Linked DNA regions of Homo sapiens. The protein of the gene in region 2 purifies or fractionates together with the protein of the main gene of each other region. This does not show direct contact. Each region holds a gene or a part of one and is shown on either strand. Other genes may lie near its edges.

Region 1 (3,513 bases), about 120 Mb from region 2:
ACAGAATATTTAGAAATACAACATTAGACAATAGAAACTGTTCTTGATTCTCTTTCCTTACCCGCTGAAAACGGTTAAACATTTTGGAATGATTATTTTAAACAGTTATCTTTCTAATCACTTTTTTGCATTTTTTTGTATGATCAGTGTTTACGATATATTCTACCCTCTTTATATTTAACAGACATTTTTATGTCACTAAATATTACTCCACAAGTTTTAATGGCTGAAAATAACAATATGGGTGCTTTGTAATTCATTTTAACCAATCTGCTGTTTCTTGAACACGTGGGGGTTTTCCTTTTTATAATTTTTTTACAAATATAAAAGGGCGCGGTGGCTTACGCCTGTAAATCCAGCACTTTGGGAGGCCGAGGCGGGCAGATCAGAGGTCAAGAGATCGAGACCATCCTGGCCAATATGGTGAAACCCCATCTCTACTAAAAATACAAAAATTAGCCGGGCATGGTAGCATGCGCTTGTAGTCCCAGCTACTCAGGAGGCTGAGGCAGGAGAATTGCTTGAACCCGGGAGGCGGAGGTTGCAGTGAGCAGAAATTGCGCCACTGCACTCCAGCCTGGCAACAGAATGAGACTCCCATCTAAAAAAAAAACAAAACAAAACAAAAAAACTTGTTCCCAATTCTAAATCCATCATTATAAAATGTTTAAAACTTTTTTTAATATGGTGAAGGGAAACATTTCTATGACACTGTTCTTTTTGACTATTATAGCTCTGTTCTATTTTTAGCAGTCTAGAGAGAAGTGTGGAAAAAAAAGAGAAAGCAAAGTTAGTAGGGTGAACTCTATTTTAATTACCTTAGAAGTTTTTTAAATGCAGCTGCTCAAACAAAAATAAATGAAAAACATATCAAAAGTATTTTCACATTCCATGATTAGTTTCTATTGAACTTACTTGTGTACAACAGTTACTAGCTCCTCTACAGTATTTCCATTCAGTAGAATATCCATTTTTACAAGTTCTGCAGTCTGGTAGCCTGCATCTTCGTAATCAAAACTAAAAGGAAAAAAGTCCAAGTGATAAATATTACACTTCCTGAGAGATTACCTTTATTACTCTTTACTCTTTACTAAATGTCTACTTTCTACCGCATTACACTCCCCAAAGAGATATGTTTCCATCAAAATATTACATATACAGTTTCTTGTGAATGGATCTAAATGTTATCTTTTTATGTTTATTAAATCAAGGGCAAAAGCAAGGGGAATATGTTTATAGGGGAAAGGAAAATAAGCTGGTGAACCTGACAAAGAAAATGGTTTATTGAAGACAAATATCATGCCTTCCCAATGTTCCCAGCAGCTGGGAGGCTTCGGACAATACTATATATTATTAATGGATCATTTTCAGATTCATGAGTTGGGTTTCTGTTTAACTTTCTATTACCAATGACAACTCTATGTTTAAATAAATGCTATGACACTCATAAAATGCCATTAATAAATGAGACCTTTGGATTTCCTATTTGGCTCTTCAGCTTGCATCTCCCTTCACAGGGCTTTTGTGAGGATTAAATGAGTTAATACATGTAAACCAATTAGAGCAATGCCTAGTACATAATAAGTGTTTAAACAGAGCCTAGCTTAGCACACACAAGCACTTAGTTTCAGCTATTACTTTTAACAATGTGGTCAAAGCTTGTAATGTTAGTCAAAACAGACATTTAAATGTTTCACTTATAAAACTGAAGTCTAAAGAAAATTTCAATTAGGCTTACAAGTTGTCCCAATCACAGACAAGAATATGTATACTCCTATTGTCTTAATTTTAAAACAATTGGTGCCTGGACTTGCAAAATTATATTTGGTTTCTAAAGATTTTCAGCAGGAAGGTCATAAAGTGACAATAATACACTCTATTAACAGATTATTTTCAGAAGTACTGTTAAAATCCTTTCTTTCTTCAGGAAGCATCACTTATACATTTACTGTATGAAAGATACCATGTTAAGTATCATACAGAATACAAAGCAAATAGAGAATAAAACAGACATGGTCCTTAACTTTGAAGTTGTTACAGCTCCAGCTATGTTGTGGTCCAAAATATTAAAAATCTTAAAAATTTCTTAACTCATTTTTTCAAAAGAAATCATTATAAAAATTGTGTTTTTGTTTCCAAGCAGTCCAATTGATACCTAACCTCTATTGAAAACATAGGTATTCTAGTGTTTCCTTAGAATGCAGGAAACACATTTGTAATTCCAAAAAGCTACTAGTTGCTGTTGATTCTTGCCTCCTGGTATGAAATAAGTTTTTTCCTGATCTTAATTCATAGTCTATGATGACTTTCTGTTAAGTGTGGAATTGACTGCCTATGTAAAACATCCATCTTGAACATAATTACCTTAATGCTGGAAGCTGGAATATTTTATTTTTATGTAGTTCAAAAATAAATCATGTTCTCTCATTAAATTCAAAATGTATTTAAGTTTCCAAACGACAAGGCTTTTTAAGACCACTTATAATTCAGAAAGTAGTACCCAAATGCAAACTAAAATTGACAGACTTCTGTTAAAAATATTTATAAACATTAAACCTACTAATCTTCCTTTCAACTCTAGTAATTTTAATATGCCCCTCAATTCATTTTACTTTAAATTCCATTGCCACTTACTTGCTCAAGGTCTTGTCTGAAAGAAGACATAGAAGAAGAAAAAACTGGGTGACAAAGTAGAAGAAAATTCTCAATACAAAGGAACATGAAGATTCCTTGGTAAGAAGAATTATATATGCTAACTCTCTTCACTGACAAGATGATTAAATAAAGTTAAACTTCCAAGTCACTGTAGCATGTTTGTTAAACACTGGAATTTGTCTCTGCATGTTAACATTAACATTCATGCACTGTGTGGGAGTTTTATAGATGTCAATGTTCATTTTTCCCCTCCTGCTTCCCCATGTTTCACATCTGTTTTCTATATATACTATCCCGTAACATAAGATTTTAGGGCATAGTGAGGGTATCTAGAGTTATATGCCCCAACAACAACAACAACAACAAAAAACAGCCTCTCAGAATGCTATGCCCTGAGTTTCTTATTTGTTATTTAATAGTAACTCTCCTTTCACTTTTATCTGGCTTTTCTCCATGTACTCCTATGAGATACACAAAGGTTTTCGTGATGAGGACAACCTGTTCCTCAAAAGACTAAGTTATTAAAGTGTTCACTAATGGAGCGGCACATCTAACATTTTTTACAGACTGAATATGCACTTTTATTTTTCAAATGTAAATAGATGCTCTTGAGATTGCATAACATAAATATACATTTTAAAAGTGCCACTGAGGTTATGGTAAATTTTTGAAATTAGGTCTAATTCTTAACAGACAAGGAATACAGCTCTTCATGAAAAGGGGACTAACTTTTTTTGTTAAAAGAGAAATAAAAGTTAGATAATAAATCAAAGGAAACTTTTCTCCTATAAGCAAATCACAAGTAGTCTGTAACACCTATAAAGTTGTTCCAAGTCATTCTAACCTTAGAGTATGATT
Region 2 (4,030 bases):
AGTAACTTATCTCCAGCTTCAACCTTTTTCCAGGTTTGCTTCTGGGGGTCATGACTCTCTCTGTTTCTTATTTAGACACAAGTTCTCCTTATTTAGGATTTCATCAGGAAGAAATCAAATCCCACATACACAGCACAGACTGAAGTATCTGATTTTTAAATGCTTTATTACATTAACTTTAGTATCATTAGCAGATGAATATAATCAGATTAACAAACTGGTTTGGCCACAAGGAAAAGAAAAAACATTTCTGAAGCTTCACAAAACTATGTGTGTAGTGTGCAAACTAGAACCAGTTATACTTTCATCACTTCACAGAACACAAGTAGTGTGGTGCATCAAGAGATGTTCCACTGCTGCACCATCACCTCCAAACTGTAGAGGAGAGATGAAGGCAAACTTTGGAGGAATTTCCAAGGCAACTGCAGTCAAACATTATCTGTAAAACTGCAGGTATAAATGGCATTATACAAAAGCTCAAACATCCTTCAAAACTTGGACTATTGAAGTCTACAATTAAATTTCAATTTTTTTAACTTACAAGGAAATCATACTCATTTAAGATACAGTTACCTCTACTTTAATCCCCAGCTCAGTCAGATATTTGTAGTCTTATCAGAAATATTTGTATTAGGTAGTTGTTTTATTTCCTATTCTATTGCTTACAATTTTAAAATCCACATTAATAACTCAGAGTAACATTTATACATAGATTAACAGAAAGGTAAACTTTAATTTCCAAATTAGGAATGAAGAAAGATGTTAAATGGCTTTGCTTTAAAAGAAACAGTACAACTGTATAGGTATAAATAATGGTTTTGTGACAATAAACATGAATTTAATACAAAGATACCAGTGCTTTTGGGCCAAAGCCAATAGACTTGACTTTTTAGAAATAAGCCTAGTTTACTTCATTAAAGTAAGTGTTACGGCTGCTATAATGTGTCTGGTACTGATTCCAAACATATCCAGCAATTCACTAGTTTTCCCACGTTGAGGCACTCCTGACACTGCCAGTTGATGAACAAGGATATCAGGCTCCCTGGAGACAGCTGCACAAACAGCTTCTCCAATGCCACCTTCCCTGTAGTGATCCTCCACTGTGATAACTCGGCCGCCTGTGGCTTTTGCACTGGAGATGATGGTGGCGGCATCCAGGGGTTTAATGGTAAATGGGTCGATGACACGGACAGAAATACCTTGTTGAGAAAGATGGTCAGCAGCTTCTAAGGCTTCATGGAGAGTAACTCCAGCTCCAATTACTGTGACTTTATCATTGACACCGTGGCGGACCACCTTGGCCTGGCCAATCTCAAAATTTTCTTGTGGGGTATAAATAACTGCAGTTTCTGGTTGGCTGGTTCGAATGAAGCACATTCCCTTGGTATTGGCGGCTAGATAAATAGCATGCTCTGTCGAGATGGCATCACTTGGATAGAAAACAGTACAATTGGGAATGCTTCGGAACATGGCTAGATCCTCCAGGGCCATCTGGGAGACTCCATCTTCTCCAGTGGATACCCCACAGTGGGAACCAATAAGGTTGATATTGGCTTGAGAAATGGCTCCCATTCGGAGCTGATCGAATGCTCTAGTAAAAAAGGCAGCAAAAGCACCAGCAAAAGCAATGGTTCGACCACGTGTAGCACAGCCTAGTGCCACACTTACCATGTTTTGTTCAGCAATAATACACTCTATGAAACGCTCAGGGTGTTCTTTCCTGAATATCTCAGAAAAGGTGGAGTTCATCGTGTCACCACTCAGAACAATAACTCTTTCATTTGCACGGCCCAGTTTAGCCAGAGCCAAACCATATGTTTTCTGAGTAGCTATCTTGTCACCAACTTTGTAAGCAGGTGGGGAGGTCATTTTTATATCTGTGATGCTTATTTGAGGTGAGTCTTCCACAGGCGATTTTGGTATGAGATTCTCATTGGTCTGTATCTGACTCTCAATTAATTTGACAATTGCATCTGCTCTTTCTTTTGGCACTGGCTTTCCATGCCAATTTTCTGCATCCTCAATATTTGGAATACCCCGACCTTTGAAGGTCTTGGCAACTATAGCAGTAGGCTTGTTCTTCACTTGACTTGCTTGCCAAAATGCTTGGCACAAGGCCTCCACATCATGGCCATCCACTAAGTAAGTATTCCATCCAAAGGCTTCACAGCAATTCTGGTAGATGTCTGCGCCATGCTCAAGGGGTGCAGGGCCACTTTGTCCCAAGCGGTTCACGTCGAAGACCGCCACGAGATTGTCCAAGTTGTAGTGGGAGGCAAAAGCAAAAGCCTCCCACACAGAGCCTTCTGAGGATTCGCCATCTCCCATAAGGCAGAACACCCGGTAGCTGGCCTTGTCAAGGTACTTGCCAGTATAAGCCATTCCACATGCAGTACCTAATCCCTGACCTAGGGACCCTGTTGCCACGTCAACAAACGGCAATCGGGGGGTAGGGTGTCTCTCCAAGTCGCTGTGAAGTTTCCTCAGGTTCAGCAAGTCAGATTCACTGATGTCACCCACCTCCACCCAAGCAGCATAGAGGATAGGAGCAGCATGTCCCCTGGAGAGGATGAACCGGTCGTTGTCCGGGTGTTCTGGGTCTGTCTGTTTATACTTCATCGTGTGGAAGAAGAGGACAGACACGACCTCCGCTGCACTGCAGCACGACGTGAGCTGGCCAGAACCAGAGGCACACGTGGCCCTGATGGAATGGATCCGCAGGCGGTTGGCTGTGTCCCGCAGCACCTGCACGGTCTTCACGTCGGGCTTGGCGTCGTTGGCCATCATCTCTCTTTTGTCGGTTTGGCAAAGCAAACGGCGCCGCAGCACCCCCACAACCCACCGCGGCAGTGCTCTCACGTGACCGCCCCGCCCTCGCCTCCCCTCTGCCTGAAGGCCTGAGCTCAGCCACCAGCCGGGGCGCCCACAACGGAGCTTCCCGCGAGACTGAGGAAACGGAAACGTTGGAGTAGCCTGCACCCTCTGATGTGCACCGTTCCCTCTCCCTGTCCACGCCCAGCTGAATGGATTTTTAGTATTTACTTTGTCACGTGCATGTTCAACATTAGGAAGCATAATTAAATTTTTTACCTTTCCCTGTGTTATAAATTCAAGACTAGACATTTTTCTGTGTATTATAGGAAGCGATTTGTCAGGCTGTGCTTTTTTAATGCATTAACACTATATCCGAGTCATCACTCTTTCATATCAGAACATTAATAGAAAGGATACAAAGTCACTTTCAATCTGACCAGTATGGCAATGCTATCTCAACAGAGACTTTCTCAGAGCAACCAAATATCTGAATCTCAGACTTATAGAAAGAAATGCAATGACTAATTTGACCAAAATTTATAGGAAGAACAAATCTGAAACCACCCAATTGCAGAATAGAATTGCAACTCCAGTGTGCCGTAAAGTACTATTTCTGTGTTGAAATAATTAGAAGGCCAGTAGGCTGAGGTAGCTTCAGCTCCATGAGTTCCTACCTAAGGAAAGGAAACCCAAATCAGTGTAAATGATAAAAAGGAAATTTAAGCTTAATCAATCAGAAACTGCCAGCTAACTTCTAACTGGGGACTTTCCACTGGGATGACCCAAATAAGTCTAGTACTCCACTTTAACCAATCAAATATCTTTCCTTTGCTTCCAAATTCACCCTATAAAAGCCTTCTCCTTGGCTCCTTTATCAGGAGCTACCAGATTCATGAATCACTGAATGGTCAAATAAATGCTTTAATATTTTAATGTGCCTCAGTTTATCTTTTAATGACTATTACTACAAATCATTTTTAAGACAAAGTTACTTACTTTAAAAAACTAAATTTGTGGGCCGGGTGCTGTGGCTCACACCTGTAATCCCAGCACTTTGGGAGGCCGAGGCAGGCGGATCACAAGGTCAGGAGTTCGAGACCATCCTGGCTAACACGGTGAAACCCCGTGTCTACTAAAAATACAAAAAAATTAGCTGGGCGTGGTGATGGGCACCTGTAGTCCCAGCTACTCGGGAGGCTGAGGCAGGAGAATGGCG

What was found.
Region 1: the proteins of TKTL2 (region 2) and GUF1 purify together in Homo sapiens (co-immunoprecipitation; one large-scale study listed by IntAct). This does not show direct contact.

The regions. Positions count from the first base shown.
Region 1 is NC_000004.12:44,691,916-44,695,428, reverse strand, and holds part of GUF1 (translation factor GUF1, mitochondrial), read right to left. Parts: intron 1,018-3,513; coding exon 916-1,017; intron 1-915. UniProt on the Homo sapiens protein: Promotes mitochondrial protein synthesis. May act as a fidelity factor of the translation reaction, by catalyzing a one-codon backward translocation of tRNAs on improperly translocated ribosomes. Binds to mitochondrial ribosomes in a GTP-dependent manner.
Region 2 is NC_000004.12:163,470,948-163,474,977, forward strand, and holds TKTL2 (transketolase-like protein 2), read right to left. Parts: upstream 2,808-4,030; 5' UTR 2,788-2,807; coding exon 907-2,787; 3' UTR 148-906; downstream 1-147. UniProt on the Homo sapiens protein: Plays an essential role in total transketolase activity and cell proliferation in cancer cells; after transfection with anti-TKTL1 siRNA, total transketolase activity dramatically decreases and proliferation was significantly inhibited in cancer cells.